2 linked regions of the Homo sapiens genome follow. Each later gene encodes a partner of the first gene's protein in a complex. Each region holds a gene or a part of one and is shown in the gene's direction. Other genes may lie near its edges.

What was found.
Region 2: KIF11 (region 1) and RBM10 share a complex: the UniProt entries of both Homo sapiens proteins name them as parts of the large chromatin remodeling complex.

The regions. Positions count from the first base shown.
Region 1 is NC_000010.11:92,651,849-92,655,926, forward strand, and holds the end of KIF11 (kinesin-like protein KIF11), read left to right. Parts: intron 1-1,816; coding exon 1,817-1,948; 3' UTR 1,949-3,547; downstream 3,548-4,078. UniProt on the Homo sapiens protein: Motor protein required for establishing a bipolar spindle and thus contributing to chromosome congression during mitosis. Required in non-mitotic cells for transport of secretory proteins from the Golgi complex to the cell surface.
Region 2 is NC_000023.11:47,183,115-47,187,519, forward strand, and holds the end of RBM10 (RNA-binding protein 10), read left to right. Parts: intron 1-1,940; coding exon 1,941-2,090; intron 2,091-2,187; coding exon 2,188-2,253; intron 2,254-2,327; coding exon 2,328-2,516; intron 2,517-2,601; coding exon 2,602-2,676; intron 2,677-2,950; coding exon 2,951-3,057; intron 3,058-3,143; coding exon 3,144-3,273; intron 3,274-3,359; coding exon 3,360-3,485; 3' UTR 3,486-3,699; downstream 3,700-4,405. UniProt on the Homo sapiens protein: Binds to ssRNA containing the consensus sequence 5'-AGGUAA-3'. May be involved in post-transcriptional processing, most probably in mRNA splicing. Binds to RNA homopolymers, with a preference for poly(G) and poly(U) and little for poly(A).

The DNA.
Region 1 (4,078 bases):
ATTTGAGGGTACAAGCCTAGACAGAGTGTGTGAAGGAAAAATTTCCTTACGTAGGACATTGGTATCTACATTTACAGTTGAAGTTCTACTTCTGAGATGCATATGCTTGTACCTTTTTTTTTTTTTTTTTTTTTTAAATATATATAGAGAGAGGGTCTTGCTATGTTGGCCAGACTGGTCTTGAACTCTTGGCCTCAAGCAGCCCTCCTACCTCAGCCTCCCAAAATGCTAGGATTACAGGCATGAACCACTGCGCCTGGCTGCTTGTACCTTTTTTGTGTGTATGTCTTGTTTTGTTTTTTTGTTTTTGAGACGGAGTTTTGCTCTTGTTGCCCAGGCCAGAGTGCAATTGCCTGATCTTGGCTCACCACAATCTCCGCCTCCCGGGTTCTAGCGATTCTCTTGCCTCATCCTCCCGAGTAGCTGGGATTACAGGCATGCACCACCACACCTGGCTAATATTGTATTTTTAGTAGAGAAGGGGTTTCTCCATGTTGGTCAGGCTAATCTTGAACTCCCGACCTCAGGTGATCCGCCCGCCTCGGCCTCCCAAAGTGCTGGGATTACAAGCGTGAGCCACCGCGCTCGGCCTGTAACTGTTTTTTAATAGATCTACAGCTCCTTCCCTTAAGGTCTAAAGATTCTCCATCCCTGCTTTCAACAGTTAACAAAGTTCCAACTCAGATTCTCATAAATTCCTCCCTGTCTTCCTCTGGGCAATTTTATTCCCAAATTCTTGCCACCTTTTGCTTTATTCCTTACTATTAGAGAACTATAAATATGTTTCTTTCAGTTTTCATCCTTTTCTTCTATCTTATAAAGTTAGGAAAGGGGGAAGGATAAGAGAACCTGGTGACTACTTAATCCCTGGTCAGAAATCGTTTTATTATTATTATCTGTGGCATTTTGAATTAGGCTTAGTGATTCAGCTATGGCAAGGAAGTCCCTACAGTACCAGAAAGGGTTTGGGATGGGGTTTTAGACCTTCAGCTGAAGTCCAGAAATGATCTTTTCCCTAGTAGCAGTGTGATGTGGGGATTTTCTCTGCGTTTAAAACTTTAAAAGTTGGTTTACAATTTGTCTCAGCATTGATGACTGAGTGTACAATGAATGTCACCAGTCCATTAATGTTCTGTATGGGTAAGTAGGATTCCAATGAAATAGAACTTCCAAATGAGGAATATGAAATAGGTTTTACAAATAAAATAAAATACAATTTTAAAAAACAAGTAAAAGTGTTTTTAAGGTGGCCCATATACCAGTTTCTCTGCTTAAAACAGAATTGGCTTTTCTGCATGACAGCAAATCTTTGTTTCCTTAGAGCAGGGTTTCTTGACAGCAGTGCTATTGGCATTTTAAACTGGATAATTCTTTGTTGTGATGGGCTTTCCTGTGGACTGTACTATGTTGGTACACAAGAAAAACAGTGTACTATGTGAATACTCACTCAAAGCCAGTAGCACTCCCTGATTGTAACACCAAAAAAGTCTCTCAGCATTGCCAAATGTCCCCTGTGGCAGCAGAATCACTCCCTGATGAGAACCACTACCCTGGAGTAAAATCTATAACTATGTCTTAGAAAATAACACAGAAAATTAATATTTCTTTCACTCTACTCCTTCCATTAGTGATCAAATAAAGAAGGCATTTGGCGCTACTTGCCAAATTGTTGGCTCAAACTTGTGCTGAACCTTTTTTGGTTTTCTACACTTAAGTTTTTTTGCCTATAACCCAGAGAACTTTGAAAATAGAGTGTAGTTAATGTGTATCTAATGTTACTTTGTATTGACTTAATTTTCCCGCCTTAAATCCACAGCATAAAAAATCACATGGAAAAGACAAAGAAAACAGAGGCATTAACACACTGGAGAGGTCTAAAGTGGAAGAAACTACAGAGCACTTGGTTACAAAGAGCAGATTACCTCTGCGAGCCCAGATCAACCTTTAATTCACTTGGGGGTTGGCAATTTTATTTTTAAAGAAAACTTAAAAATAAAACCTGAAACCCCAGAACTTGAGCCTTGTGTATAGATTTTAAAAGAATATATATATCAGCCGGGCGCGGTGGCTCATGCCTGTAATCCCAGCACTTTGGGAGGCTGAGGCGGGTGGATTGCTTGAGCCCAGGAGTTTGAGACCAGCCTGGCCAACGTGGCAAAACCTCGTCTCTGTTAAAAATTAGCCGGGCGTGGTGGCACACTCCTGTAATCCCAGCTACTGGGGAGGCTGAGGCACGAGAATCACTTGAACCCAGGAAGCGGGGTTGCAGTGAGCCAAAGGTACACCACTACACTCCAGCCTGGGCAACAGAGCAAGACTCGGTCTCAAAAACAAAATTTAAAAAAGATATAAGGCAGTACTGTAAATTCAGTTGAATTTTGATATCTACCCATTTTTCTGTCATCCCTATAGTTCACTTTGTATTAAATTGGGTTTCATTTGGGATTTGCAATGTAAATACGTATTTCTAGTTTTCATATAAAGTAGTTCTTTTATAACAAATGAAAAGTATTTTTCTTGTATATTATTAAGTAATGAATATATAAGAACTGTACTCTTCTCAGCTTGAGCTTACATAGGTAAATATCACCAACATCTGTCCTTAGAAAGGACCATCTCATGTTTTTTTTCTTGCTATGACTTGTGTATTTTCTTGCATCCTCCCTAGACTTCCCTATTTCGCTTTCTCCTCGGCTCACTTTCTCCCTTTTTATTTTTCACCAAACCATTTGTAGAGCTACAAAAGGTATCCTTTCTTATTTTCAGTAGTCAGAATTTTATCTAGAAATCTTTTAACACCTTTTTAGTGGTTATTTCTAAAATCACTGTCAACAATAAATCTAACCCTAGTTGTATCCCTCCTTTCAGTATTTTTCACTTGTTGCCCCAAATGTGAAAGCATTTCATTCCTTTAAGAGGCCTAACTCATTCACCCTGACAGAGTTCACAAAAAGCCCACTTAAGAGTATACATTGCTATTATGGGAGACCACCCAGACATCTGACTAATGGCTCTGTGCCCACACTCCAAGACCTGTGCCTTTTAGAGAAGCTCACAATGATTTAAGGACTGTTTGAAACTTCCAATTATGTCTATAATTTATATTCTTTTGTTTACATGATGAAACTTTTTGTTGTTGCTTGTTTGTATATAATACAATGTGTACATGTATCTTTTTCTCGATTCAAATCTTAACCCTTAGGACTCTGGTATTTTTGATCTGGCAACCATATTTCTGGAAGTTGAGATGTTTCAGCTTGAAGAACCAAAACAGAAGGAATATGTACAAAGAATAAATTTTCTGCTCACGATGAGTTTAGTGTGTAAAGTTTAGAGACATCTGACTTTGATAGCTAAATTAAACCAAACCCTATTGAAGAATTGAATATATGCTACTTCAAGAAACTAAATTGATCTCGTAGAATTATCTTAATAAAATAATGGCTATAATTTCTCTGCAAAATCAGATGTCAGCATAAGCGATGGATAATACCTAATAAACTGCCCTCAGTAAATCCATGGTTAATAAATGTGGTTTCTACATTAACCTGCTTGCTCCATAATTTCTTATCTGGCAATGGGTATATTTAGAGGGTTAGGCAAGCTGCATTCACATTCCCAAAATAAACTATGCAGGTACCACCAAAGAAGAAGGAGCCTAGTAAACTTGCAGGCTTTTAGTTGCACTCCAAGGGGCTATCCTAGGTGCAAGGTTAGTGAGAAGTAGGCCCTCACACAGCCTGAAGTCCAGCTTTAAGTCATCTCATTCCATGACTGTTTAAGTTATCTGAGAATGCTGATGCAACTAATTTCACTGCCTCACAGAAGCAAAAATAAATCTCCAGATAATTTTAACATCCAGAACCATAAATTAGCTCTACCAATTTTCATACACAATGTCGGGCCCTCAGAATGTAACCAAGAGTAGCATCAGCAAAAATGGCCAAGTAGGTAGCTTCAAGGACCTTTTCCTCCACAGAAACATTGAAAAATCAAGCAAAAACATTCAGAAACAACTTTGTCAGAACCCAGGAAAATAGTTTACAGCACCAAGCATTTGCTGAATCAAGAAAAAGGC
Region 2 (4,405 bases), on another chromosome or scaffold:
ATCATAACATGGCAAAGGGCAAGAGAGCATGCATGAGAGCAAGAGAAAATTGGGCCAAACTCCCCCTTTTTATCTGGAACCCACTCAGTGATGGCATTAAATGGAGACTCAAAAGGTGGAGGGGGGCCGGGAGCCGTGGCTCATGCCTGTAATCCCAGCAGTTTGGGAGGCTGGGGTGGGCAGATCACCTGAGGTCAGGAGTTTGAGACCAGCCTGGCCAACATGGCGAAACCCCGTCTCTACTAAAAATACAAAAATTAGCCAGGCGTGGTGGCAGGCGCCTGTAATCCCGGCTACTCAGGAAGCTGAGGCAGGAGAATCACTTGAACCCAGGAGGCGGAGGTTGCAGTGAGCTGAGATCGTGCCATTGCACTCCAGCCTGGGCAACAAGAACGAGACTCCTTCTCAAAATATATATATATTATATATATATAAAGGTGGAGGAGATGGGAGGGGGTGAAGGATGAAAAATTACTTAATGGGTATGATGTACATTATTTGGCTGATGGATGCTCTAAGAACCCTGACTTCAGCACTATACAATCTGTGCATGTAACAAAAGCACTTGTTTATTTTATTTATTTATTTATTATTTTTTTGAGATGGAGTTTCGCTCTTATCATCCAGGCTGGAGTGCAGTGGTGCAATCTCGGATCACTGCAGCCTCCACCTCCTGGGTTCAAGCAATTCTCCTCCCTCAGCCTCCCGAGTAGCTGGGATTACAGGCATCCGCCACCATGCCCAGCTAATTTTTTTGTAATTTTAGTAGAGACGGGTTTTCGCCATGTTGGCCAGGCTGGTCTCAAACTCCTGACCTCAGGTGATGTGTCTGTCTCGGCCTCCCAAAGTGCTGGGATTATAGGCATGAGCTACCGCGCCTGGCTACAAAAGCACTTGTTACCCCATAAACTTATACAATTTCTTTAAAAAGCAGCCGCGATCTCTTGAGGAGGGCAGAGCCTTTGTGACCTAATCACCTCTGAAAGGCCCTGCCTGTCAACACTGTTGCATCAGGGATTAAATTTATCTTTTGAGATGGAGTTTCACTCTTGTTGCCTGGGCTGGAGTGCAATGGTGCAATCTCAGCACACTGCAGCCTCCGCCTCCCGGGTTCAAGGAATTCTCCTGCCTCAGCCTTCCAAGTAGCTGGGATTACAGGCATCCACCACCACGCCCAGCTAATTTTGTATTTTTTTAGTAGAGCTGGGGTTTCACTGTGTTAGCCAGGCTGGTCTCAAACTCCTGACCTCAAGTGATCCACCCGCCTTGGCCTCCCAAAGTGCTGGGATTACAGGTGTGAGCCACTGCACTCAGCCGGGATAAAGGCTCCACCTGTGAACACTGTTGCATTAGGGATTACATTTCTGACACATGAACTTTGAGGGACAAAAAACATAGCAGAGAACACAGCCAGAGAGGGGCTTGGCAAGAAGCACTGGTGACTGGTGACAGAAAATAGGAACTTGCACTACTGTGTCCCTCACCTTCTGATTGTTCTGCCTCAGCTTCCACTCATCTGCCTCCCAGATGGGCCCGCCACTCTGTCCACACTGCTTCTGCCACCTCACCATTGCAAACCAGTGGGGGTGGGGGCACAGGGTGTGTTCAGTGATGAGGTCAGGAGTAGCCAGGTGCCAAGTGCCTTGCAGGCTGTGGTTGCGAGTTTGGGTTTATTCTTGGTGTGATGGGAGGCGAAGGAAGGGTTTTAAGGACATTGTATTTGGGGGTGGGAGTGGCTTATACTTCATGAAAGAGCGCTCTGCTGGGAAAGGTGGTCAGGAGCCGTAGCCCAGAGGCCAGATGAAGCCTTCTGCAGTGGTTCGGACTAGGGATAGTGGCTGGCCCGTGTTTGAGGATGCAGGGCAGTGGGTCAGCAGATAGAGTTAGTAGCCCCAGGGTCATGAGGGTTCTGGGAACCTCACCTCCACCCTCACCCCCAGATTGCCAAGGACATGGAACGCTGGGCCCGCAGTCTCAACAAACAAAAAGAAAACTTCAAAAATAGCTTCCAGCCTATCAGCTCCCTGCGAGATGACGAGAGGCGGGAGTCAGCCACTGCAGATGCTGGCTATGCCATCCTCGAGAAGAAGGTGTGTTGGGGCCACCCCCCTGCACCCTGCCCCACAATCTTGTCCTTCCTTTGGGCCCTCTGTGGAGTCCCTGAATTTCTGTGTCCCTCCACCCCAGGGAGCACTAGCCGAGAGACAGCACACCAGCATGGATCTCCCGAAATTGGCCAGTGACGACCGCCCAGTGAGTGCCCAAGGCAGAGAGGGGCGGGGGCTCTGATCTGGCCAGGCCTGACCGCCCACCCTCACCCTCTACAGAGCCCTCCGCGAGGACTGGTGGCAGCCTACAGCGGGGAGAGTGACAGTGAGGAGGAGCAGGAGCGTGGGGGCCCTGAGCGGGAGGAGAAGCTCACCGACTGGCAGAAGCTGGCCTGTCTGCTCTGCCGACGCCAGTTCCCCAGCAAAGAGGCGCTCATCCGGCACCAGCAGCTCTCAGGGCTCCACAAGGTAACAGCGGATGGTTGGCAGGGCATGCTGGGGCCTGGCCCACTGAGGCTCATCCTCTTCACTTCTCATCCTGTCCCTCTTGCAGCAAAACCTTGAGATTCACCGGCGAGCCCACTTGTCAGAAAACGAGCTAGAAGCACTAGAGAAGAATGACATGGAGGTGAGGTGTGACCTGACCCTGGGCTCCCTCCCCTGTGTCCCTTCCAAGTCCCCATCACCTCAGGCAGCTGGAGTTCAATTTCTCACGTGTTAACCCCGTGAGCCTTCTTCCCCATTTTCCTATCCTGGCTGCTTGTGCCTGTGATGGCCTGACCCTCAGGACCTGAGCCTCATTAGCCAGATGGCATGCCCTGTGGGACCCCACTCCCCATGCCTGTGTTGCCTGAGAAAAGAGACCAGCTCCCCAACATTCACATACACATACAAACTTTCAGCAAATGAAGTACCGGGACCGTGCAGCTGAACGCAGAGAAAAGTATGGCATCCCCGAGCCGCCAGAGCCCAAGAGGAGGAAGTACGGCGGCATATCCACAGCCTCTGTGTGAGTGGCTGGGCCAGGTGAGGGGGTCTGGAGCCCGGGGCCGGGGCCGGCAGGCCGACCACTCATGCTGTGCACCGCCCCTGCAGAGACTTCGAGCAGCCTACTCGGGACGGGCTGGGCAGTGACAACATTGGCAGTCGGATGCTGCAGGCCATGGGCTGGAAAGAGGGCAGCGGCCTGGGCCGCAAGAAGCAGGGCATTGTAACGCCTATCGAGGTGAGTCTCAGGCAGTCCTGTCCCATCCCCCAGCACCCCTCACAGCATCCCCCACCAGCCTGACAGAGCCTGCCTCCCTCACACAGGCCCAAACACGGGTGCGGGGCTCCGGCCTGGGTGCACGGGGCAGCTCCTACGGGGTCACCTCAACCGAGTCCTACAAGGAGACACTGCACAAGACAATGGTGACCCGCTTCAACGAGGCCCAGTGAGCAGCTTCAAGAGCAACTTCTCCACATGTTGGGTGTCCATCCTGGGGCAGGGAAGGACAGAGTGTTGGATGGCTGGGACGGGGCCTTGCTCTTGTCGGCCAGCCCACTCCCCAGCCAGAGAGGGCTTGACCAAATCAAATTGAGGTGGTGACTTTTGTTGGAAAATTGGGCTGGGATCACGTCCTGTTTTGTAATAAAAGCTGAAAAGTCTGCATGTTGGCCTCTCCTCTTTCTCGTGCTCTAGCACAGTTGTATAGCCTATACAGACACGGGGACCCAAGCAGATGGACAGGGGACCTTATCAGGCCAAGGTGGATGGCAGTGGTGGCATTCAGTGTCTGGAACATAATGGCTACTAGAACATGGGGTTCTGACCTGTACCCCGACCCATAATATCCTGGTTATGGCCCCTCTCCCTTGTTGGTTCCAGCAGGTTATGTTGTACCAGGAAATCTAGCACCACCAGGCATGAAGCGCCCCCTGATCAGAGCTAGGACTGGGAACCCCCATCCCCTGTCCTTGCTGCCCCCTGGCTTTACTTAGCCTGCAGTCCCAAGGCTAAACTGCATTTTGCCATCCCTAGATCTGGAGACAATGCCCTCAGGCATCTCCAAGTAGAATACAAGAGGTACTCAGGTTCCAGTTGGCCCAGAGCCCTCAACAGGCTGATGACAGAGGGGTGGAGGTGGAGCTTGGCCTGCAAATCCAAGGCCAGGTCCCAGGGATGCCCTTTGAGAACCATTCAGGCCTACCTTCTCTGTTGTTACCACAGTGCCCCACCCCTCTAGTCACTGCAACCCATGATTCCCAAGTATGTGCTTGTGCTCTCGGCAGAGGTTCTGGGTACAGTGGACCGTGACGCTGGGGCTGCCCTCTTCCAAGCCTCAGAGGGCCACAGCGTGAAAGGGGGATGGTGCTAG